Linked DNA regions of Homo sapiens: regions 1 and 3 are each reported to be linked to region 2. Evidence: microRNA targets listed by miRTarBase, many of them from high-throughput screens and not tested one by one. Region 2 holds a microRNA gene; each other region holds the end of a gene's coding sequence.

Region 1 (7,949 bases), not on the chromosome of region 2:
AACATTTGGGCTGGCAGTCTGTTCGGTGTGAGAGTTTCTGCTGCCTTCCAAATATATTTTAAGTGTAAATCAAATAATACAGACGAGTTACGAGCTGAACATTTTCCCAGGCCCCCTCACTCCTTCCGCGTTCCCGAGCTGTTCTGTTCTGCCAGGAGGCAGGGCTCTTCTTTAGAAGGCAGGCCCTTTGAAGGTTTGCATGAAACTCCCTTTCTCAAAGGAGGCGGAAGAGCAATACCACATAAACGCTCACCGCTGACCTGGAGAATTGGCCACTTCCCTTTTTCTTCCCTGCCGCTGCCCCAGGCTGGCTGACACGGGTTAGAAGATGAAGCAAGATCAAGGGCTGGCTGTCACCGACAGTCTGTGCTCTTGCTGGATAATGATACAAAGGAAACCCTGTGGCTTGGGAGGGTAGGGAAGTCCCTCCTAGAGATACCTCTCATTTCCTTTTGCGTTGAGCTCTTAGACGAGGTATTGGCGAGGCAAAGTCCAGCTTCTAGTTAGTAATAAGCCTGGCTTATTTTTCACATTTTTAAGGGTCATAAAAGCAGTCCGTCTGCACTGGGACAGCAGTAACTATCTCTGACCTTTTCTGTCTCCGCGTCTGCAGGTTCTAGCACAGACGGCAACAGCGCCGGACATTCGGGGAACAACATCCTCGGTTCCGAAGTGGCCTTATTTGCAGGGATTGCTTCAGGATGCATCATCTTCATCGTCATCATCATCACGCTGGTGGTCCTCTTGCTGAAGTACCGGAGGAGACACAGGAAGCACTCGCCGCAGCACACGACCACGCTGTCGCTCAGCACACTGGCCACACCCAAGCGCAGCGGCAACAACAACGGCTCAGAGCCCAGTGACATTATCATCCCGCTAAGGACTGCGGACAGCGTCTTCTGCCCTCACTACGAGAAGGTCAGCGGGGACTACGGGCACCCGGTGTACATCGTCCAGGAGATGCCCCCGCAGAGCCCGGCGAACATTTACTACAAGGTCTGAGAGGGACCCTGGTGGTACCTGTGCTTTCCCAGAGGACACCTAATGTCCCGATGCCTCCCTTGAGGGTTTGAGAGCCCGCGTGCTGGAGAATTGACTGAAGCACAGCACCGGGGGAGAGGGACACTCCTCCTCGGAAGAGCCCGTCGCGCTGGACAGCTTACCTAGTCTTGTAGCATTCGGCCTTGGTGAACACACACGCTCCCTGGAAGCTGGAAGACTGTGCAGAAGACGCCCATTCGGACTGCTGTGCCGCGTCCCACGTCTCCTCCTCGAAGCCATGTGCTGCGGTCACTCAGGCCTCTGCAGAAGCCAAGGGAAGACAGTGGTTTGTGGACGAGAGGGCTGTGAGCATCCTGGCAGGTGCCCCAGGATGCCACGCCTGGAAGGGCCGGCTTCTGCCTGGGGTGCATTTCCCCCGCAGTGCATACCGGACTTGTCACACGGACCTCGGGCTAGTTAAGGTGTGCAAAGATCTCTAGAGTTTAGTCCTTACTGTCTCACTCGTTCTGTTACCCAGGGCTCTGCAGCACCTCACCTGAGACCTCCACTCCACATCTGCATCACTCATGGAACACTCATGTCTGGAGTCCCCTCCTCCAGCCGCTGGCAACAACAGCTTCAGTCCATGGGTAATCCGTTCATAGAAATTGTGTTTGCTAACAAGGTGCCCTTTAGCCAGATGCTAGGCTGTCTGCGAAGAAGGCTAGGAGTTCATAGAAGGGAGTGGGGCTGGGGAAAGGGCTGGCTGCAATTGCAGCTCACTGCTGCTGCCTCTGAAACAGAAAGTTGGAAAGGAAAAAAGAAAAAAGCAATTAGGTAGCACAGCACTTTGGTTTTGCTGAGATCGAAGAGGCCAGTAGGAGACACGACAGCACACACAGTGGATTCCAGTGCATGGGGAGGCACTCGCTGTTATCAAATAGCGATGTGCAGGAAGAAAAGCCCCTCTTCATTCCGGGGAACAAAGACGGGTATTGTTGGGAAAGGAACAGGCTTGGAGGGAAGGGAGAAAGTAGGCCGCTGATGATATATTCGGGCAGGACTGTTGTGGTACTGGCAATAAGATACACAGCTCCGAGCTGTAGGAGAGTCGGTCTGCTTTGGATGATTTTTTAAGCAGACTCAGCTGCTATACTTATCACATTTTATTAAACACAGGGAAAGCATTTAGGAGAATAGCAGAGAGCCAAATCTGACCTAAAAGTTGAAAAGCCAAAGGTCAAACAGGCTGTAATTCCATCATCATCGTTGTTATTAAAGAATCCTTATCTATAAAAGGTAGGTCAGATCCCCCTCCCCCCAGGTTCCTCCTTCCCCTCCCGATTGAGCCTTACGACACTTTGGTTTATGCGGTGCTGTCCGGGTGCCAGGGCTGCAGGGTCGGTACTGATGGAGGCTGCAGCGCCCGGTGCTCTGTGTCAAGGTGAAGCACATACGGCAGACCTCTTAGAGTCCTTAAGACGGAAGTAAATTATGATGTCCAGGGGGAGAAGGAAGATAGGACGTATTTATAATAGGTATATAGAACACAAGGGATATAAAATGAAAGATTTTTACTAATATATATTTTAAGGTTGCACACAGTACACACCAGAAGATGTGAAATTCATTTGTGGCAATTAAGTGGTCCCAATGCTCAGCGCTTAAAAAAACAAATTGGACAGCTACTTCTGGGAAAAACAACATCATTCCAAAAAGAACAATAATGAGAGCAAATGCAAAAATAACCAAGTCCTCCGAAGGCATCTCACGGAACCGTAGACTAGGAAGTACGAGCCCCACAGAGCAGGAAGCCGATGTGACTGCATCATATATTTAACAATGACAAGATGTTCCGGCGTTTATTTCTGCGTTGGGTTTTCCCTTGCCTTATGGGCTGAAGTGTTCTCTAGAATCCAGCAGGTCACACTGGGGGCTTCAGGTGACGATTTAGCTGTGGCTCCCTCCTCCTGTCCTCCCCCGCACCCCCTCCCTTCTGGGAAACAAGAAGAGTAAACAGGAAACCTACTTTTTATGTGCTATGCAAAATAGACATCTTTAACATAGTCCTGTTACTATGGTAACACTTTGCTTTCTGAATTGGAAGGGAAAAAAAATGTAGCGACAGCATTTTAAGGTTCTCAGACCTCCAGTGAGTACCTGCAAAAATGAGTTGTCACAGAAATTATGATCCTCTATTTCCTGAACCTGGAAATGATGTTGGTCCAAAGTGCGTGTGTGTATGTGTGAGTGGGTGCGTGGTATACATGTGTACATATATGTATAATATATATCTACAATATATATTATATATATCTATATCATATTTCTGTGGAGGGTTGCCATGGTAACCAGCCACAGTACATATGTAATTCTTTCCATCACCCCAACCTCTCCTTTCTGTGCATTCATGCAAGAGTTTCTTGTAAGCCATCAGAAGTTACTTTTAGGATGGGGGAGAGGGGCGAGAAGGGGAAAAATGGGAAATAGTCTGATTTTAATGAAATCAAATGTATGTATCATCAGTTGGCTACGTTTTGGTTCTATGCTAAACTGTGAAAAATCAGATGAATTGATAAAAGAGTTCCCTGCAACCAATTGAAAAGTGTTCTGTGCGTCTGTTTTGTGTCTGGTGCAGAATATGACAATCTACCAACTGTCCCTTTGTTTGAAGTTGGTTTAGCTTTGGAAAGTTACTGTAAATGCCTTGCTTGTATGATCGTCCCTGGTCACCCGACTTTGGAATTTGCACCATCATGTTTCAGTGAAGATGCTGTAAATAGGTTCAGATTTTACTGTCTATGGATTTGGGGTGTTACAGTAGCCTTATTCACCTTTTTAATAAAAATACACATGAAAACAAGAAAGAAATGGCTTTTCTTACCCAGATTGTGTACATAGAGCAATGTTGGTTTTTTATAAAGTCTAAGCAAGATGTTTTGTATAAAATCTGAATTTTGCAATGTATTTAGCTACAGCTTGTTTAACGGCAGTGTCATTCCCCTTTGCACTGTAATGAGGAAAAAATGGTATAAAAGGTTGCCAAATTGCTGCATATTTGTGCCGTAATTATGTACCATGAATATTTATTTAAAATTTCGTTGTCCAATTTGTAAGTAACACAGTATTATGCCTGAGTTATAAATATTTTTTTCTTTCTTTGTTTTATTTTAATAGCCTGTCATAGGTTTTAAATCTGCTTTAGTTTCACATTGCAGTTAGCCCCAGAAAATGAAATCCGTGAAGTCACATTCCACATCTGTTTCAAACTGAATTTGTTCTTAAAAAAATAAAATATTTTTTTCCTATGGAAAAAGTGCCTTCAAAGTACTTTTCTTCTTTTCTTTTCATTTTTCTTTCTTTTTTGTTTGTTATTTTAATTTGCCTTCCTTTACTCTATTTCCCCCAAAATTACAGTTAATCCAGAGACTTCTGTCTATGGACACTGTGTGCCCACTTTTCAAATCGGGATGTGCACATCACACAAATATTAATTTTGCTAAGAGCCGTGAGCTCGTTATTCCCCATAAAACCACAAACTCTCATTTCAAAAATAATATGCAATTGTATAAAATCCTAATAATCCTCAACAGAAAATCTCTCTAGTGGCACCTGAATTGCACAGTCAGAATAGTTACCTACAAAGTTAGCTGTCTCAGGAAAAAGAGGGAAATGTACTCTTATCTTACACTTAATTCCAGATCGATCTAGTGTCCATAGAAGCAAAGCAGCGGTCTATCGCTTCATTTTTCTTAACAGAATAATCCTAGGGAGAAGGAAAAAGTCAAATGTTTTTGTAAAAACTTAACATTGATGAGAGCACATTTTGAGATACTGGTTGAAGGCAAGCCAGAGGCCAGCTGTGAGTTTAAAACACACTTTCAGTGGTCATCTTCCTGGGGAAGGTAACTATGTACCCTGAGGGGTGTGATTGTTTTTCAGGCCTCTTGTAGTCCTGGGTATTAAGACTGATCACTATACTTCCTGGGTAGCTTTTTAAACAACCAAGAGTCCCCACCCATGGCAGAGAACTTCACACCCTTGAGATCTGAGTGCTAACATCTTTACATTATCTCAGGTTAATCCCTGCCATAAGAGTGAGACATTTTAGGTAGGGAGAATAGGAAAAGGCCCCTGGAGTCAGGAAGCAAGCCAGAAGAGTTCCCAGGTCTGACTGACTTGCCCAGGACCACACCCCAGTCAGTGGAAGAAACCATATGTTTCAAAAGTCCATAGGTGATGAAGAAAGGCTGGTTTGGACACAGGGATCTACACAGCTTAGCACAGTACTTGTACTAGAGAAATGTTTGTTAAATAAATGCCTCCCTTCATCAGCAACAACAACAATCCCCGGAGGCCCAGGGTTTTCGTGGATGGTAGAATCGTAGTTTCATCTGTTCCAGGATTTTCTCCTGCTGCACCCACCTGCCTTCAGTTGCAGATCCAAGTTGATGGATGCAATTTTATGGCCAAGCCACTAAGCTGAACCCTCGACCGTGTGCACCAAGGTCATTTCTAGTTAGTTTGGGCAAAAGAAAAGAACCAAAGTGAAATCATGCATTTTCAACCTTTACTTTGTGGTACCTATTACAACATAAATTACCGAATACACAATGTCATGGTTTGGACCCTGTTTTTAAACCACGTTTTCTGAGTAAGCCAAGCTCAGCTAAGAAACAAGATTTGTCCACTTGTTCTTTTCACCTGGGAAGAAGGAACACACGCAGAAGCTCCTTGCAGAGGGCGTATAACCAGATGCCCTTTGTTCTGTCTCAAAGGTGAGCCCAGCCTGCTCTGAGCACGTTACTTCTCTGCACAGGCGAGCGTCCCTCAGCCAGCAGCCAGCTCTCTTTCTTATCAACTCCCTTTTTGGCAAAGCAGATGGCCATTCAAACCCTGGGATAAAGGTTCGCAATGGAAATGAGAAAAAATAAAGTATTCCTTTCTGGGTAACTGCTGTCCAGCTTACTGTCAGTCTCTGAACCCAACCCAGAGAAGAATTAGCAAGAGAAAAAGTAAACTCCAGAGTAGTAAAACTCACTTTCCTAATGTAGGTTAAAAAAAAAAAAGAAAGAAAAAGAAAAAGGACCATTACCCTACTTTTTGGTTGGGTAGCAAATAGGTCTCAGGTGGCTCAGGAGACACAGTAGCTACTGCAGCACCAAGGACACTAGCCTGGATGTGCTACTGCTTTGGTTTTTACTTTGGATGGATTTTTGAATTACGTTTGTGATATTTACACTATACACTTACTTGAAGGCAAATTTTCAGTGTTGTCATGGAAAAGAGTATTTCCTACTCCGATTCATTATTCCAGGTAGAGAATCATTCATCAGTGATTTGAGGGGGGGGTACTAAAATATTGCATTATTTGTAACAAAATATAGCAAACCAGGTAGGTTAATCCATTTTTAGATATGTCCCAAAAGCTAACGATACATGCAGCTTAAGATTTTTATACTTTGATAACTTGATTAGTGGAATCTCTTTAAAACAGTGTTCATATGAAGTCAACCATATCTTTAAAAACAACCAACCCCCTCAAGAATTCTCCAGGTATACACCAGGTACACAGGCATACGGCACAAGGAAAATAATACTAATTATAGCAGCACAGTTTCTGGCCAGTTGTAGACAGTTAACAAAGGTGTTAAATCATGAAAGGGGCACCTGGTTTCTGGCTGTATTTCTGCTACTGACTCATGCTGTGACCTTCAGCAGATCCTTTTATGTTCTGTGCCTCAGAGCCTCACCTGTAAAGTGAGAGGGATGGATTCTAAGATACCAAAGGTCGCTTTTGCCTTTTTGCAGGATTCGCAGCAAAAAGCCATCACCATTTTCAGCTGTACAAAAGTATCTCCATGCAAGCTTCTCCGTGTCCTAGTGTGCTGCAGACACAGCTCTGAAGTCTGCGGAGGTGGTGCCCAGTCGGCCCCACCTCTTAGCTGCGCATGCCCATCCACCCACTGCCTCCAGCAAGAACCCACTGCCTCCAGCAAGAACCCGCTGCCCAGGGCCCGGGGTCCAGGACTCTGCGGCTCTTCACCCCTCCCTAGAATCAAAATCCAAAAAGACTTCAGAACCAGCGATGTATATGTACGGATTGAGCTGGTGTTGCCAGCCCTTCCCTCTAATTGTTAAGTGGAATCATTTATCTCTATTTAAAAACATTTTCAGGCCACTGCAGGCGGGGTCCGAGCACATTCGCTACACTCTTCTACGTGACTGTCTGATAAAGACCCACCACGAGCCAGGCAACGTGTCGGGTGGTCACGGTGTCCCCTTCCACCAGTTAACTTAGCCCAACTTGACTTTGTCTTCCTTGTAGACTCAAGATTAATTTAACTTCCTGTTGAATATTGTTCATGCTGGTATCTGGAACACATCCTTATCCCTCCTTTATTATTTACACCTCTAATTCTGTAGTCTGTGACAGAAAACTGTAGAATTGAGAAACATCTTTTAGTTGATAATAGAGCTATTATTTCTTAACTAAGTGCCATTCATGCTTAATAAAGAGATTACAGGGGTGTGTGTATGTGTGTGTGTATGTGTGTGTATGTGTGTGTATGTGTGTATGTGTGTATGTGTGTGTATGTGTGTATGTGTTTATGTGTGTGTGTGTGTGTGTATGTGTGTGTATGTGTGTGTGTGTGTGTGTGTGTGTGTGTTTTAAAAGGCGTGATGACTCTTATCTTAAAACGTCCAAGAACAGTAGGGGAGATAAATTTCCTCAAAGCAAATTGCTTAAAATTACCTAGAATCTTAAACTGAATACTCCAAGAATCCTCTTCAGGTATATCATTTTTGTGCAGTGGCTTCATTAACACAACACTAAACGAAGAAAAAAAGTAGTCAAAATTCATTTCTATCTCTGGGATTCATCAACTGGGAAAAAATGCTCCAGGAAGAGCTCACAGCTTGCTCTATCTTCCAGTGGGTCTAGGAGTATTTGATCTCTTAGTTCT
Region 2 (7,949 bases):
GGGCTGCGGAGAGCGCCGGGGCCCCGGAGCTGGCCCCTCCAGCGTCTTGTCAGGGCTGCGCGGCTGGTTCGAGGCTGCTTCCGTGGCCCGGAGCCGCCCCGCCCAGTCTCTGGGGGAAAGCGGCTCTCAGACCTCCCGTGTGCCTCCACTTCGCGGCCACTCATCCCGGGAACCCCGGCGCACGCGAATGAGACACCGTTCCCCGCCCTCAACTGCCCCATTCCTGTTAATAGCGCTAGTGGCACCCAGGTTCCCAGCCCTTCCCCAAGATCGGCGGCTGGACGGCTTGCCTCTGGCGCCTCACCGGTCAGCGCATCCCAGGACTATGGGCAGTGAGGGTGTCACCCGGGGTCAGGGGTCGCCCGATTCCACGGTGTCCTCCAGGCTGAGCCATTCGTTTGCTCTTCCAACCCGGGCTCCCGGACACCGTGTACAGTAATACCCGCCGGGGGCAGGGGCACTGAGGCCGGCTCTGAGCGATTAGGGCCGAGGGCGGGCGGTGCCGTAATCGACCTCCCCACCCCCACAGGCAAGGTGCGGCGGCGCCTCCCAGGTTTGCGCCCGTCTTCGCAAAGCTCCTGAGGGCGAAAATCCTGCGAGCCAGGTGGCGGATTCTCGGGCCGGGTCACTCAGCTCTACGGGTGCGCATCACCCTCTACCTGTCACCCAGTGAGCCCGACCGATGGGCACCGAGTCGGCGGATCTCTGATCCGAGGCCGAGCCTTCGGAGAAATCTGTCCTAGTGGCCTCATCGTGGCCTGAGCGAACGCAAAGGAACCTGCCCCAAGCCCAGCTCTCAGCCTCGACCCCCACATTCCCCGCGCGGCTCTCGGTTCGGACCTGGGCTCGGAGCGGCAGCCTCCACCACTGCTCGTTTCTTTACCGCTCAAGGCCGCCCCTTCATGCTCCTGCGGGGGAGTTAGCGGGACCTCTGGAGTCGGCCTTACGCAAAGAAGAGAAAATTCTAGGATGCCGGCCTCACTTGTGAGGATTTCGTTTATTCTTTTTCTCCTACCGGGGCCCAGTGGCTCTTGGAGTGAGCTCCGCACCCCAGACACCTGAGTATTTATTTAATGGGTCGGTGGCGGCCTGGGCTTCGGGGAAAGGAGCTCTGGGCCCCTCTCCCAGCACCTCATGGGGACACAGGATGACAGGCGCAGCGTCCAGGGCATGCCCGTTCAAGGGCCCCAGCAGCCTCTAGCCCCTGGGACCTCAGGGGCATTTGATAGAGACTGGAGGGATCAGGACCAGACCGGTTGTGGGTGGCGCGGCTGGGACCCTGGACTCCAGATTCGTTGTGTAGAGGTGGAGAGGAGAGCCAGGAGTCGAGCGGTAGGCTATGTGCTGTCTAAGGACCCCGGAGTACCCATAGCCCAGAGTCCTGCAACACTCACCTCTAACACTGGAAGGGGTTGGGGGCCTGCCCTTTGCATTGGGCACCAGTGCCCAGGAAGGGACACCCCTAGGGGAAAGGGGACTCGAGTTTTAAGAAGGCCCAAGTAGAGTTCAGGAGGGTGGGGCTGAGAGCGACCGAAGGTGGGAGGGGGCGCTTTGTGGAGACCTCCTAGGATGTGTAGGACCCCCACACACCCTGTGAGTCCCTGGCTGCCCAGCCTGGCCTGCAAGTTGCATCTCTTTTGGTCCTCTTCCATTGCCAGGCGCTGACGCCCAGCGGGTGTGGGAGACCTTGTCTTCATCTTCCCACTCCAGAAGCGGATTTCTGTGCCTTTGATCTCAAGGTCAGGGCTGTGTCCTGCAGGGAGGGCAGAAGAGGCTGCTATCCTGACCTGCGCCAAGCCATAGGCCTCTGTTTTCCCTTTTGAGATTCCGAGTGGGGATTCTGCTGCTGATGTCGGAGAGCTCCTCTTACCCGCTTTTCGAGAGAGCTGGGAGACCTTGCTTCCCTAGGGCCCAGGCCCCAGCCTCCCTCCACCAGGATGGAGAGGCCCCAGCGGGCGTGGCACCCCCCAGGCACTGCGGCACTTGGGCTTCCTGTCGCATTTGGGTTAGGAGGGGTGAGGCAGGCGCAGGGGAGGAACCTGGCCCAGCCGACTAGAACTGGAAGTGGAGAGGGATTTGGCTTTGCGAGCTGCTCCCTGTATTCCATCCTATGTCAGTTACAAAGATGAGGAAAACAGACCAAGGAGCTCGACAGAGATGCCACAATTTGAAGGAGCGTACGTGTTTGGCTGCTTTGTTACAGGGCTCTCTCCTCTACCTGGGGTCCCTTTTATTCCTTCCTGGGCTGGGGAGAGCAGAATCCCTGGCTCCATCTGTTCTCCAGCTCTAAGGCCTCTGTGGCTCCTTGGTTGCAAGGTGCTGCGTGTTCCCCTTCCCTAACACCTGCCTCTCCCCATCCTTGGCTGTCCCCAAAAGAAGAATGAAGAATTCTTTTTTTTTTTTTTTTTTTTTTTGTTGTTGTTGAGACAGAATCTCGCTCTGTTGTTGCCCAGGCTGGAGTGCAGTGGTGCGATCTCTGCTCACTGCAACCTCCACCTCCCGGGTTCAAGCGATTCTCCTGCCTCAGCTTCGGGCGCCTGCTACCACGCCTGGCTAATTTTTGTATTTTTAGTAGAGACGGGGGTTTCACCATGCTAACCAGGCTGGTCTCGAGCTTCTAACCTCAGGCGATCCTCCCGTCTCCCAAAGTGCGCTGGGATTACAGGTGTGAGCCACTGCGCCCAGCCAGAAGAAAGAAGAATTCTGCATTCTGTTTAATTATCCCAGGGTGAGGCTTCTTGGGAAAGATTTCTCAAAATAGATCTTCCCACCCCCACCCCCACCCCATGCTGAGCTGTCAGGGTGCTATTAAAATGCAGATTTCCAGGCAGGCTCAAGAATCTACATTTCAACAGGCTCCTTGGGTGATGCTTATGGCTACACCCTAAGCAATGTTCATAACTACCCACCCCATACTCTTTGCTAACACCCTGCCATCACCCCTTCCCCTCCCCACCCAAGGCTGGGAAGTCTGGTCTCTCTTCCTTAGTAGAGTTCAGAAAATTGTAGTAAGGGAAACTGAGGCAGAAGGCTGAGGAGTGACTTCCTGAGATCACCACCTCATCAAGCTGGATTGTCCTCTGGGGAGATAGACCAGCTAGAAGGGCAGAGCCCTGTAGTGGGGGTGTGTGGGAGCAGGACAAAGAGTCCTCGGGAGCAGGAAGGGTGGAGCATTAAGCAGTGTCTAGGGGAGAGCGGATGGCTTTGGCCAAGGTACCCAGATGGAGCTCTGAGGTCCACGGGAGGTAGTTCCTGGGGGTAACATCGCCAAGAGGTCTGCATAGTTTCTGGGCCAGGGCACCTGCTCTGACCCTTCCAGGATATTTTCTAGCCACCCTGCCTTCTGGGCCACCGCTGACCTGGAGTAGGCTGAGACTCTAGTGGCCACTCTGCGGAGGCCCCAGCTTGCCTGCCCTGGGTGCCAGCTCCCCAGAGACCCTCCCTCCCACCCTCTCCCTTCTTCCCGTCCTTCCCCAGGGCCTGTGACACCAGAGGCAGGGCCTCCACAGCAACTTCTCTCTAGGCAGCTGCTCTGGCAACCACTGATGCAACCTTCCCAGCCCCTCCCTCGCTCCTGAGCCTCCGCTTTCCTCCGCAGTCACTCCAGAGCCAGCCAGGAGCCACTCCCTTGCTAGAGTGCATCCGTGCCTCCGGCTCCCTCCAAGCCACCTGGGTGGCTGCAGGACTTCTCTTCTGCCCTCCTTTCCTGGCCTTTTCCTGCCTTGATCCTAGGCCGGCAGCAGAGATGCCCAGCCTGGGCGGTTCACAGTCTGGCCCAATCTGGTCTGGTTTGGGATGGGAGTGGGGGTGAGCAGCAGATTCGGTTTGTTCCTGGGGCTCTGTTTCTGCCACAGGGCAGGCTGGGGGGTGGAGGATAATGGAGACCAAAGTGCCTAGGAGCCTGGGCTGCTGGTGTCTGGGCTCAGAGGCTACGAGAGGCATCTTGGATGTCCCACTGGTCACTGCCCCTGTGGCAGGTTGGGTAGAGAGGAGGCTCTGGCCAGCTGCTTGCCTCTCCGAGCCAGAGTTACTCTGGCAAGGAGATGGATGGTCCTGACCCACTCCCTCCCCAGCCTGGAGGCGCAGTCTGGGTGATGTGGAGGGATGTGGGCCTTCAGGTGGAGATAGGAGACACCTTGGTGTGGTCTTCTCCTCTGCAAGGCCAGAAGGTCAGCTCCTCTCCCGCACTGTCCCTGTCTCCTTGAAGGTCATCTTGGGCTGATGGGGCATGTGGATCTTGTGAAGAGGTGGGATGGGGTGGGGGGTAGAGACCGTAGCAGCCGCTGCTGAGGGCCTGCTGGGGGGCCCCCAAGGGAGTGGGCAGGCTAGGAGCAGGGAACGGGCATCGTGGGCCGCTGGTCTCTCCGCAGGGTCGGCAGGCCGCAGAGTGTGACTCCTGTTCTGTGTATGGCACTGGTAGAATTCACTGTGAACAGTCTCAGTCAGTGAATTACCGAAGGGCCATAAACAGAGCAGAGACAGATCCACGAGGGCCTCCGGAGCACCTTACCCACTTCTGCCTTGAGTGCTCCTAGACGTCGGAAACAGGCTGCTTCCAAGGGTGCAGGGATGCAAGGCCCCTCGTCCAGTGTGTCCCCAGAGAGCCCGCACCAGTGCCATCTGCTTGGCCGATTTTGGCACTAGCACATTTTTGCTTGTGTCTCTCCGCTCTGAGCAATCATGTGCAGTGCCAATATGGGAAAAGCAGGACCCGCAGCTGCGTCCGCCTCCCCTGCATCCTTGTGTCAGGGCCCCAGCCTGCTCCTCCTCAAGGCCTCCTCACCGCCTCCCCAGCCCATCTGGCTCAGCTGCTGTGTGAGGGCCCAGCGCTGGTGGGCAGCCAGATCGCCTTACACTGCCTGGGGCCACGGTAGAGCTGGGAGCCCAGCAATCTGAGCTGGGCCAGCAGATGGGGCCGCCCAGGGCAGAGGTGGGGGAGTCTGAAACCATCTGTAGGGCCATCCTGAATGGTGCCGTGGGTTGGAAAGGCCCAGCCAGGCTCCCAGCACACGCTTGGGGTGAGACCTTGGCTGGCAGCACAGGGCCTGGTCTTTTCTGCTGCAGGTTGTGAAGGGGGCAGCTCCAGGCAGGTGGGCTGCCCTTGAGGTCAGCCTGGGTGTTTCCAGGGGGGCTACCGTCTCTGGAGCTGTAGCCTGCTGTGGAGTGGGTCATCTCCGAACAGCTCCAAGAGGAGGATACTTAGTGGGGCTCGGAGTTGGAGGGCATTTTCAGGCCTGCCCCTAGAAGGTTCTGGAGCAGAGGCCAATGTTCCCCTTCACACACCACACACTGGTAATGTAGCTTCCTGGGTCCCTGGATCTGGGCTATGACTAACTGGCCTATGCTCTCCATCTGGGTGTCAGGTGACATTACATATATAATCCCAACAGTTCCCACCTCAGCCCTGTGGGGCTTGTAATTTTTTAAAATAGTTATCTCATAGATGGGGAACCTGAGGCTTTGAGAGGAAAGGCTTGGCTGAAGAGGTTGGTGAGTGGTAGAGCTGGGTCACTGTGGCTCTTCCGCCACCAGCCACACCTTCCATGGAGGCACCCAGGGCCTGGAGGTGTCTCAGCTCTGAATCTACAGGCCTGGGCTCCCAAGGATGCCCCAGATGGCAGAGACTGAGGCTGGGAGGCCTGGACCTAGTCTGTCAAAGCTGGGGAGAGCCTGGCCAGCCAGGCTGGACCCATGTGAAATCTGGTGGTCAGCAATCAAGCAGGAGACCAGTGGCCGACTTGGGACCAGCTGGGAGCTATCATGCCCCAGGTCACTGGGCCAGCCCCTGATGGGGCTGCTTCTCCCCAGGGAGCCTCAGGCAAGGGTTGGTGGACTTAGCCCAGATCAGTGGGAGTCATTTTAGGTGTCTGAGCCAGGGAGTGCCCGGGTGGGGGATGTGTGTGGTTGAAGCTGGCAGCTGGAGGATGACGGGTCCAGTTGACTGCACAGCAGGAACATGGTGACCAGTGCTGCCTGCCTGGGTGCCCTGGGGACTGCCTTGGGTGGGTTGGGCCTTTTTTTTCTTGTCAGTTAGCTATCACCAAACCGCGAGGAGCCCCCAATAAATTCCCTCTGGGGTGTGGTGCCCGTGTTTCTCTACAGAAGCTCTCCAAGCCCCTGCAGAAAAAAGGAGGGGCTTGTTTATTTCAGGATAGAAGGGGACTTCTGCCCTGGTGAGGTGTCCCTGTAGCTAGGTCTCTCTTCTGATGGCCCCAGCTCTCCCTCTGCCCCTCGGAACCTGGCTGGCCTGTGCCGCACCCTGTCTCTGTGCTCCAGTCCTCCGCCCCGGGTGCTTCCTTAGGGCGTCCTGCTGCAGGTCCCATGGGATAGGAAAGAAGGGATTTCCCGGCCTGAGTGAGAATGAGCCCTGGAGGTGGGGTGGGCACAGAGACCCAGCAAGGGGGGGTGGAAGGCCCCTGGCAGTGACCGGTTCTAGAGCTTTTCCCTGGAGCCTCTGGAGTGTCTGGCCAGGGTTCTGCTCCTTCCTGCCTAGCGGGGAAGGCCGGATGACAGAAGCTGCCCTCAGCCCCTGGGTGGTCTGCAGCTGGGCTCCACCTCCTCACACCTGCCCAGGTGGGCGCCTTTGCTGAGCCCCGAGTGCAGGCACTGGTGTGGGGGCGTGCCTCCACCAGGCTTCAGGCCCGGCTGCTCTGGGGCCCTGCTCCAGCGCTCCAGGGGAGGACCTCAGGCCAAAGCTAGTTTCTAGATCTCCTAATTTACCTAGTTCCGGGCCAGACCTGGGTGGTGAGTTCACCCACAACAGTGACTGTCCCAGAGAGTGGGGGCCACCACAGCTGGCCCTCCTCCCTAAAGACACAATTTCCTACCACCCAGGCTGGGGGCACTTAGGATAGGAGAGGGCCCCTCTTCACCTCCCCACCCTGCAGAACAGGTCCTGGATCCTCCCTTGTGTGGCTTCCAGAAGGTCTGTGAGATGGGCAAAAGGTTCTGCCCATGATCTGTCCAATGGTGTCCAGTGTCAGGCAGGAACGCTGTCCCACTGCAGCGAAGGCCTTTCTTGCTGGAGCGGGAGGGTCACTGAGAAGCACTTTTTGCTTTGTTTTTCTGTTTGTCAAAAGCAGCGGCTCCCAGATGCCCGGGTTTAGGGCGTCCCCCATGTCGGGCACCTTGCTTGGCCTGTCTGGGTGCGTGGAGCGGCAGGAGGGGCAGCTCCCTGGAGGGCTGTATGAGTGGGTTTTCCAGACTCCCCGCCTCCCCCACCACTCCATTTGCTTATTCATTCCAGGCCATTATCCCAGCCTCTGCCCAGCCTCAGGCGGGTCGAAATGCGATCCGGCACCATTGATCGCCTGCAGCCCCAGGCTGCCGATGGAGCCCGGCTGGTGCGGCCACAGCTGGGTGGGGAGGAGGACAGGACCCCCCACATACACACTGGAGGAGGGTGGGAGTGGCCTCCTCAGCAAGTCCCAGGCTTGGGGGCTCCATGGGACCAAGAGAGCCCAGTGCTGCTGATGTCCCAAAGCAGGCCCGCCCACCCTCGGAGAGGCTTCCAGAGTCGTGCCTCTGCTCAGAGGCCAAACCTTCCCCACCAAGCCTCTCCTTTCGGGCAGAGGTGTCCTCCCCAGCGCCCAAGCCCAGGCTGCCGGTCCGGTCTGGGTGCCACCGAGGTCCTGGACTTGGCCCTGGGGATGGCCTGGATCTGTTTGCATCTTAAGCCATCATCCCATCTCACTCCACCCTAAAGGGCAGGCAGGATGGGAGGGGTGGTGGCGGTGGCGGCGGCAGCGGTGTCATTTTGGGGGCCCTGCCAAGTCAGCTGCTCCCCCAGCCGGGGCATGTTCGGAAAATGAGCCTGCTCATGGTGGGCCCATACTGCCCAGGAGGCTTGAGGGCAAAGAGTCCCTTCCAGGCTGCAGGGGAGGCATGGGGATGCAGGGTTGGGGGCAGGCAGCCTGCACCCTTGCTAAAGGCTTGAGATGCCTTCAGGA
Region 3 (7,949 bases), not on the chromosome of region 2:
CTGAACAAGGAATATTTGGCTCTTAATTTTTAGGATTTTATTGTAGTTTATCCCTTATTAGCGATAGTTGATTGAAATTAATTGCCAAATGCCTCTCTGGTGAGTCATATTCCGCAATTTTGAAATAGGGAGGTCAGCTAACTCTGTGTGGAAGGGAACTGTGCTACCTTTTAAAAGTGTTATATTTTACATTAATGCATTCAGAGTGATTTAAAAGGCATTCAACATGATTATTCAATATCAAGAATATTTTGTTATCTCTAGCTATAGAAGTCTTTGAGATTCTCCCTTTCTTTTACATGCACATGACACTCACATGTAAAGAGTGAAAAGTACATTTATGTACTTGCCCAGAAGAAACCTTTGATTTTGTGCAAATGGATTATCAAGAGAACTGATTCTTTAAATGATATTCACTTGTTCCTTGCATTCCTGTATTTTTAGATAGTATTATTTTTGTACAGTAGCATGCTGTATATGAACACAGAGGTATATAATCATTAGCATGCTATAGAACTATGTTACTGTGAATCCCCCCACAGCCTTTTAAACATTATGAGGTGGTAGTTCACTTTTTCTCATCTTCTTATAGACAACTCATATGTGTTAATACTTCTGTCTCTTCTAATATTGATTCTGCTTTCGTTTTTTTAATAAAGGGTAAACCTTCACCCTTTATACAAATTTTTTTTTTTTTTTTTTTTTTTTGAGACGGAGTCTCGCTCTGTCGCCCAGGCCGGACTGCGGACTGCAGTGGCGCAATCTCGGCTCACTGCAAGCTCCACTTCCTGGGTTCACGCCATTCTCCTGCCTCAGCCTCCCGAGTAGCTGGGACTACAGGCGCCCGCCACCGCGCCCGGCTAATTTTTTGTATTTTTAGTAGAGACGGGGTTTCACCTTGTTAGCCAGGATGGTCTCGATCTCCTGACCTCATGATCCACCCGCCTCGGCCTCCCAAAGTGCTGGGATTACAGGCGTGAGCCAGGGCGCCCGGCCAAATTTTTTTTTTTTCTTTTTTTTTGAGATGGAGTCTCACACTGTCACCCAGGCTGGAGTGCAGTGATGCAATCATGGCTCACTGCAACCTCGAACTCTTGGGCTCAAGCAATCCCAAAGTGCTGGGATTACAGGCATGTGCCACTGCATTGGCTTCACCTATCATACCATTTGGATTGTTATACATGTCATCAATCAACAACTACCTAATAAACCTGCCAATTAAATAATTCTTAGTTGTTATCCCTAATGTGAATTAAATATATACAAATATTTAAATATAATAATTAAAGAGAACTATTTGCTGCCAAAAACCTTCTTGGAAGAGAGAACAGGGGTGGGAGTGGTGTGGGTGTCAAGGTATAGATGGAATCTCCTGTACATAAGGCATATCATACATCTAAGAGTCCTTAAAAGCTGCATTTTAGATAGTTGAGGCTTTGCCCTTCCATTTAGAAGGTTGCTCTGGGAAAAAGTATTAAAAAAGACCAAGTAATTTAAAAATGGCCATGATTAGCTTGAACTTGATTATATACTTCTTCTTAGTCCTAGTTTTTCTTAAAACTAGACTGAAGATATCAGTGGTATCTGACAGGCTGACGATATCAGTGATTAAGTTTCTTCCCTACAGGTGTAGAAATAGGTCTGGAGTGTAAAATAATAATTAACCACAAATATACACAATTATCTATTCAATCAAAAAAAATTTTTTTTAAGTAAATTAAAATTTTTCTTTTCCTTCTAAGGTGAGTCATTAGTGCAATAAGTGTAGGAATAGATAATAATTCCAAACATATCTGAAGAAAATGGTCCATGGAGTGAATCACCAATGTAGTTAATTAGTCTGTATACAACTGACAATGTATCTCCACAAATTATCTAGTTTTTCAATGAAATATTCTCAAAATCAATTTATCAAAGAAGATTTAATCATCCCCTTCCCTGCTTTTTTTTAAAGAGATAAGGTCTCAACTATGTGCCCAGGTTGGAGTGCAGTGGCTGGTCACAGATGCAATCACAGTGCACTGCAGGCTCAAACTCCTGGGACCAAGTGATCCTCCCGCCTTTGAATCCAGAATACCTGGAACTACAAGCACATGTGATTGCACCTGGCAGATTTAGTTACTAAAATTTTTACTTTCAGTACCTATTCAGCACCGTGTAAAAATTCAGGAATGAAGATTCCTAACACATTGGATTCTACTTCTCATGCATTACATTTCTCTTTTAAGTGAAATATGTCCAATATATACAATAATGCACAATCATGAAGTGATCCATATAATTACTATATTATATACTATACTTCTAACTTGAGAGGTTTTAAATACTTTTAATTATAAATTCTTTGATATATTTCCATACATGCTGTAAAAACAAGGTAATTCAAAATACGTAATCATCAGTTAAATATGGTAACATAAAAAAATTCTTAAGTCATATTGATGATCTTTGTCACTGAAATATACAGTTTCCTAAGACTTAGATAAAAATATAGTTTAAAGGAGTCACAGGTGAAATGAAACACATTTGGAATGAAGCTGATATACGGTCCTTTGAAAACACCCTAGAGATTAATTGGCAAAAAAAAGTAGTTAGTATTTCATTGTCTTTTGGTTTATAATATAAGGCTAACTACATAGGAATCAGGAAACTAAGTCCTGATGCTTAAGTCCCATAAGGACTAGTTAATTTTACATGTATCTGTTTGAAAACCAGATCAGCTGTAACAGAAATGTATGCCTCTGGGGACTGAGTACAAAATAACCACCTTTGTCTGAAAAATGTCCATCATATTATCTTCACAAAGAAAATCTTTATTAAAAAAAAAACTCACTCAATGAAACTGAATGTAAAATACTGGAAAGTCTAATTGAAAAGGCATCTTTGTTAATGGTCAGGAACTTACTAGTTCTGCCTTATATAGTTGTGATTTTCTCATTCTAACATGTATACTCAAATCAGGCTGAGACCATGTCTTAAACTGTCATATAGTTCATGCAATCTATAGTGCCCAATACAAGTGCTGTACATGTGGCAAAGCACACAATATTAATGAAATTAATGAAAACGAATCTCCTTTTCTTTCGACATTAACAAAGAGTAACAATCAAAAAATACAACATTAAAAGGAGAAAATGTGAAAATACATTTTGTACTATTATTTCATTTGGGTTTGTTTCTAAAGTACTATAAAATTTTGCAGATGTTGTCAGATTCTAGTTAGAGTTCAGCTTCTCGTAATTTCTACTAATTGAAAAGTAAAGTGTTATCTTTATTCTCAGAGAACACCTATCATCAGTAAGATATATGCTTAAAAATAGAGACAAAAACCCAAAACACAAGATTTTGGGAGTTTATCCTCTCATCTGGTATGCCTTGAAACGAATTTATTACAACATATACCTGAGTTCATATGATATGAATGGTGTGCTAAGTACCTAGAAGCATTAACATAATATTGTATGTGGATATATATATGTATCAGCATCACAGTCTTATACTTAGGTAGAAATCTCTTCTGTGATTCTGAAAGTTCTTTATACAAAGTTAACTACCCAGAACAAGAAGAGAACTCATATAATAATTCTACTAATTATCTGTATGAACGTCTGCCGTAAGTTCCCTTTGTCCACTTTATGTGTTAAAACCTGATAGATGCAATGCTTTCTCAATGATCTGATCCTGTAATCTCACTGCTATCACATTCTGAATCACTTAACGGTCAGCGCTGAATAATACACATTAGAAATATATTGTACCATTATACAATTTATATCAGTCCATTTATATCAGTATGATGGGCTTACAGCATCTGATATACCATCTGTGCAAAAATAAGGTAAAATTCACAATGTAACTTCAGTCATGCACCGCTTAACTAAGGGATATGTTCTGAGAAACACATTGTTAGGTGATTTCAGTTGTGTGAACATCATAGTTACATAAACCTAGATGGTAAAGCCTACCATCTACCACTATATGAAATATATGAAATAACCTATTTTCCTAGGCTGCAAACCTGTACAGCATGTTACTGTACTGAATACTGCAGGCAATTATGACACAATGGTATTTGTGCATCTAAACATAGAAAAGGTAAGGTAAAAATACAGGTACTATAATCTTATGGGACCCCTTTGTATATGTAGTTCAGAGGCAACTGAAACTTCGTTACGTGACACATGACTGTATTTTAAATTTAGAAAGATTCTGGCAAACATGGGATCACTATAGGCTGTAATGGTTATTTATATATAAATGGGTTTGGAAAAGTAGAGCCAATTTCAGATTAACTGTACCAATACTGAGTAACTATACTGAGAATACAAAAATTATTTCTTTAAACCTCTGAAATGTACTATAATTTTAGAAGCAGATTTATTTTTGTACTTTGATTGTCTCAGATTAAAATACTTTTGCATTCTCTGTGCACGTATTGTCTTAATAATGGAAGAAATTTCAGGGCAAGGTAGAGGAAGGCCACCCAGTAATTAAAGACTTGCAGGTATAAAAAATTACCTCCACATTGAACCATTTTGCTTTATATCTATACACTTACTAAAAAACACCTTGACTTTTGAGATCACATTATTTGCTGTAAGATAATACTGTTTTAAACACACCTAAAGTCTTTCAGCATCCTTTTGTTTATATGGCCCTACTTTATATACAGGATAAAAAAAAAAGCCCCCAAACTTAAGGTCGAAAGCAAGGGTGTCCAATCTTTTGACTTCCCTGGGCCACACTGGAAGAACTGTCTTGGGCCACACATAAAATATACTAACACTAGCGATAGCTGAGATTAAAAAAAAAATTGCAAAAAAAAAATATCTCATGTTTTAATTAAGTTTACAAATTTGTGTTGGGCCACATTCAAAGTCATTCTGGGTGGTATGTGGCACACGGGCCTCAGGTTGGAAAAGCTTGGTCTGAAGTAAATGAATTCTAACTTTTATTTATAAGATAAATTCTTAGAAAATGTTTTAGATGACTTCAAAATAGAAAAAAGGTTTAAGCTCTTTAGACTATTCTGAAAATGTTTCATTATTAAATAATGCAGTAAGTACCATTTAAACTTTCACAAAAAAATGGAACAAATCTTTCATGAATAAACTTTAAAACTCAAGCTTTTTAAAAAAATATATAAAGTATATATAGGAAGTATTTAAGTACACTTTCATTGTAGCTGGAAATAAACTTGGCTCCTGATGTTCTATATTTAAAAACTGTCAGTTGTATAGTACTAGTACTAAACAGCTAGGAAGTCAATTTCTTTATCAACTTTGATGTTATCATTTGACAAGATTTGCAATCATAAATTTCTTAGGCTTTACAACTTAGAAGTACGTTAGTGATCATTCAGTCTTTTTTTTTTTTTTTTGAGATAGAGTCTTGCTCTGTCGCCCAGGCTGGAGTGCAGTGGCATGATCTTGGCTCACTGCAACCTCTGCCTCCTGGGTTCAGGCGATTCCCTTGCCTCAGCCTCTTGAGTAGCTGGGATTACAGGCATGCACCACCATGCCCGGATAATTTTTGTATTTTTAGTAGAGATGGGGTTTTGCCATGTTGGCCAGGCTGGTCTTGAACTCCTGACCTCAAGTGATCCGCCTGCCTTGGCCTCCCAAAGTGCTGGGATTACAGGTGTGAGCCACCATGCCCGGCCAGATCATTGAGTCTTAACCTTAATACGCAAATAAAGAAACTAAGATTCAGAGATTTAAAAATCATATAATTTATCGGAGGCAGAAATGAGATTAGGGTCCAGCTCACCTGACATTTTAGTGCTGTTATCTTAGTTGCCTTAAAATCCATTTATATTCGCAAATAACAAAAGCAACATATTATTTGAAAATACAAAACATAACAATAAAAAAGGTGTAGCTAGTACTAAATATGTCATTAGCAAATTGTGTCCATTTTAAATGTATTATCACCCTAATTTTTCAGGGGCTCTTAGTGCCAAAGACCCTCAGCCCAAAGTTTTCTGGTGAATTTGTTTATACTTACAGTAGTATGTACTATTTTAACACCATGAATCTCAACAAACAATTCTTAAGCATTACTTGATTCAACTGCAGGTGATATTTAATTTGGTTGATGTTGTATCAATTCAGAAGTTACTCTTTTATATAACATCTCCTAAAGTCTCTTTTTGGAAGCTTAGTATTTGTGTTATTAAACTCATTGTAGTACTGTCAAGTACTCTAGATGCTTCTGTAGTAAATATTAAGAAAACATGCCTATGTGATATTATAACAGGTATTTAAAATTCTCAAGCTAGAAATGTTAAATTTTTCATAGAAAAACTTAAAAAAAGGCCCATATTTGGATTTTAATGTATGATGGTCTTTATTTACAACTTTATTGGCAAAAAAGAAAAGGGAAACTTTTAAACAATTTAACACAGGGCATTGTAGCTGATCCTGTCAGATAAAAGAAGTTCCATTTTAAATGTCCATCTAATTGTCCAAAGATACACAATACTGAATCTGCATACGCAGTTTCCTTTATGAAGTACAGTGCTCATGTTTTAGGCAGTCTTCTAAACATACAAATACAGAGGAAATTAAATCACTCATTAAAAACTGTGTCAAATGAAGGGTATTTTAAATATAAGTTTGTTGTTTCTGGTAATAGCACATGCCCAAATGAAAACCAAAAGATGGAAAGGCAGATACACTTCTTACTTGGGTGGACAGTTACAACATCAATCATTTTCTGCAATGACCATTATATTTTCAATTTATCATGAACTACTCTGAACTTACTATGAGATGTAGCCAAAGTCAGAAGAGAAGATGTAGGGACAAGATGCCTTTTTTGCAGGAGGTTAACTCCTCCAGAATCAGCATAGGAAATAAACATCCTGTTGATTCTAGGTGGAAAGAAATTAATGTAGTCAATTTCAACTCGTGCTGAGCTGACTTAATTTTTTCAGCGATGTGTTTGGTGTCATTCTTCTAAATCAAGTGTATTTAATTCTTCTTCTAGTTCATCCAAATCCTCTCCAGTGAAAAGATTTTCATCAACAGGAACAGCATCAATGGCTCCATTTTCCGTTCCCTCCCTCTCGTTGTCCTCTTCCAAGTCACTTCTTTCACCATTTTCAGCCCTACCTCCAGAAGCTTCACTTAATTTGTTTTCTAAATATAAAAACTGGAATCAGTAAGGCGTAGAAGCAGAAAACACCATTCCACATTAGCAATAGACAACATAGACTGATACTACACTTCCTCTTTTCCTTTTCTCCATGAAAGCCATTTCCCCAGAATTACTCCAGCAAGAACTGATCATTCTTTTCTGAGCTTATCTGTGCCAATTATCTATACCTACTATAAAATACTGTTTTTCACTGTAGCCATTTGACTACTTAATGGTTTATACATTTGAGGGCAGGATCAATCTTCTACACCTCTGTGTTCCCTACATGACCTAGCAATTAGATTTTAAATAGTCAATTTCCATATAATATTTTATTTGACTAAATGGTTATGGAAACCAAAAAAATGTTTGTAATATAAGCAGCTACTTGGCTTTTGGTTTTGCAAATAGTATTTAAATCATGCTGTTGTAATGCTGTGATTGTGACAGCAGAAAATCTTCATCATGTAATCAAATTGTTAAAAAAAAACATAGTGCTATACAGCTACTTTTTCTTATAGGTTATAAATAACTGAGAGAAAAAAAATGCTGCCTTTTCTTGTTCAATGCCATTGACAATTACACAGACATTTTTTAACAGCCTAATTTAGATTTTAGTTATTTCAAACATCTCTGATGACAAAGTCTTGGGAATTTTATAATCTCTGAATTATTTGCAGTTGTGCCTATTGTCACCAAAGCCCCTACTTCTACAAAGAGCAAGTCAATCTGAATACTGGCAAGATAGTGGTTTGCTAACACTCTCAGATCTTGGGAGGGCAAGCTGGTTTTTCAAGTTACAGCTTGTG

The links. Region 2 holds the annotated microRNA hsa-miR-96-5p (UUUGGCACUAGCACAUUUUUGCU, at 4,634-4,656, shown strand). A microRNA usually pairs through its seed, bases 2 to 8, with sites in the 3' UTR of a target mRNA and lowers its output. Matches are read on the target gene's strand: a 7mer-m8 pairs with bases 2 to 8, a 7mer-A1 pairs with bases 2 to 7 and ends in A, and an 8mer does both.
Region 1: the mRNA of EFNB2 is a reported target of hsa-miR-96-5p. Seed matches in the 3' UTR shown: 7mer-A1 at 4,022-4,028.
Region 3: the mRNA of ZC3H15 is a reported target of hsa-miR-96-5p. The part of its 3' UTR that is shown has no 7-base or 8-base seed match.

Annotation. Positions count from the first base shown.
Region 1 is chr13:106,486,093-106,494,041 of GRCh38, reverse strand. It overlaps EFNB2 (ephrin B2), which reads left to right. Exons shown (of 5, transcript NM_004093.4): 5 at 614-4,297. The coding sequence ends at 1,002. LOC124903247 (a long non-coding RNA gene) reads right to left here and starts at 5,597. Exons shown (of 2, transcript XR_007063940.1): 1 at 5,407-5,597; 2 at 4,242-4,747. RefSeq lists enhancers at 1-914, 1,062-1,562.
Region 2 is chr7:129,771,446-129,779,394 of GRCh38, reverse strand. MIR96 (microRNA 96) reads left to right here and starts at 4,626; the gene lies at 4,626-4,703. MIR183 (microRNA 183) reads left to right here and starts at 4,381; the gene lies at 4,381-4,490. RefSeq lists enhancers at 1,611-2,457, 5,301-6,162, 7,889-7,949.
Region 3 is chr2:186,507,736-186,515,684 of GRCh38, reverse strand. It overlaps ZC3H15 (zinc finger CCCH-type containing 15), which reads right to left. Exons shown (of 10, transcript NM_018471.3): 10 at 6,324-7,142. The coding sequence ends at 6,952. Among named protein-coding and RNA genes, the nearest start is that of ZC3H15, 25 kb to the right of the region's middle.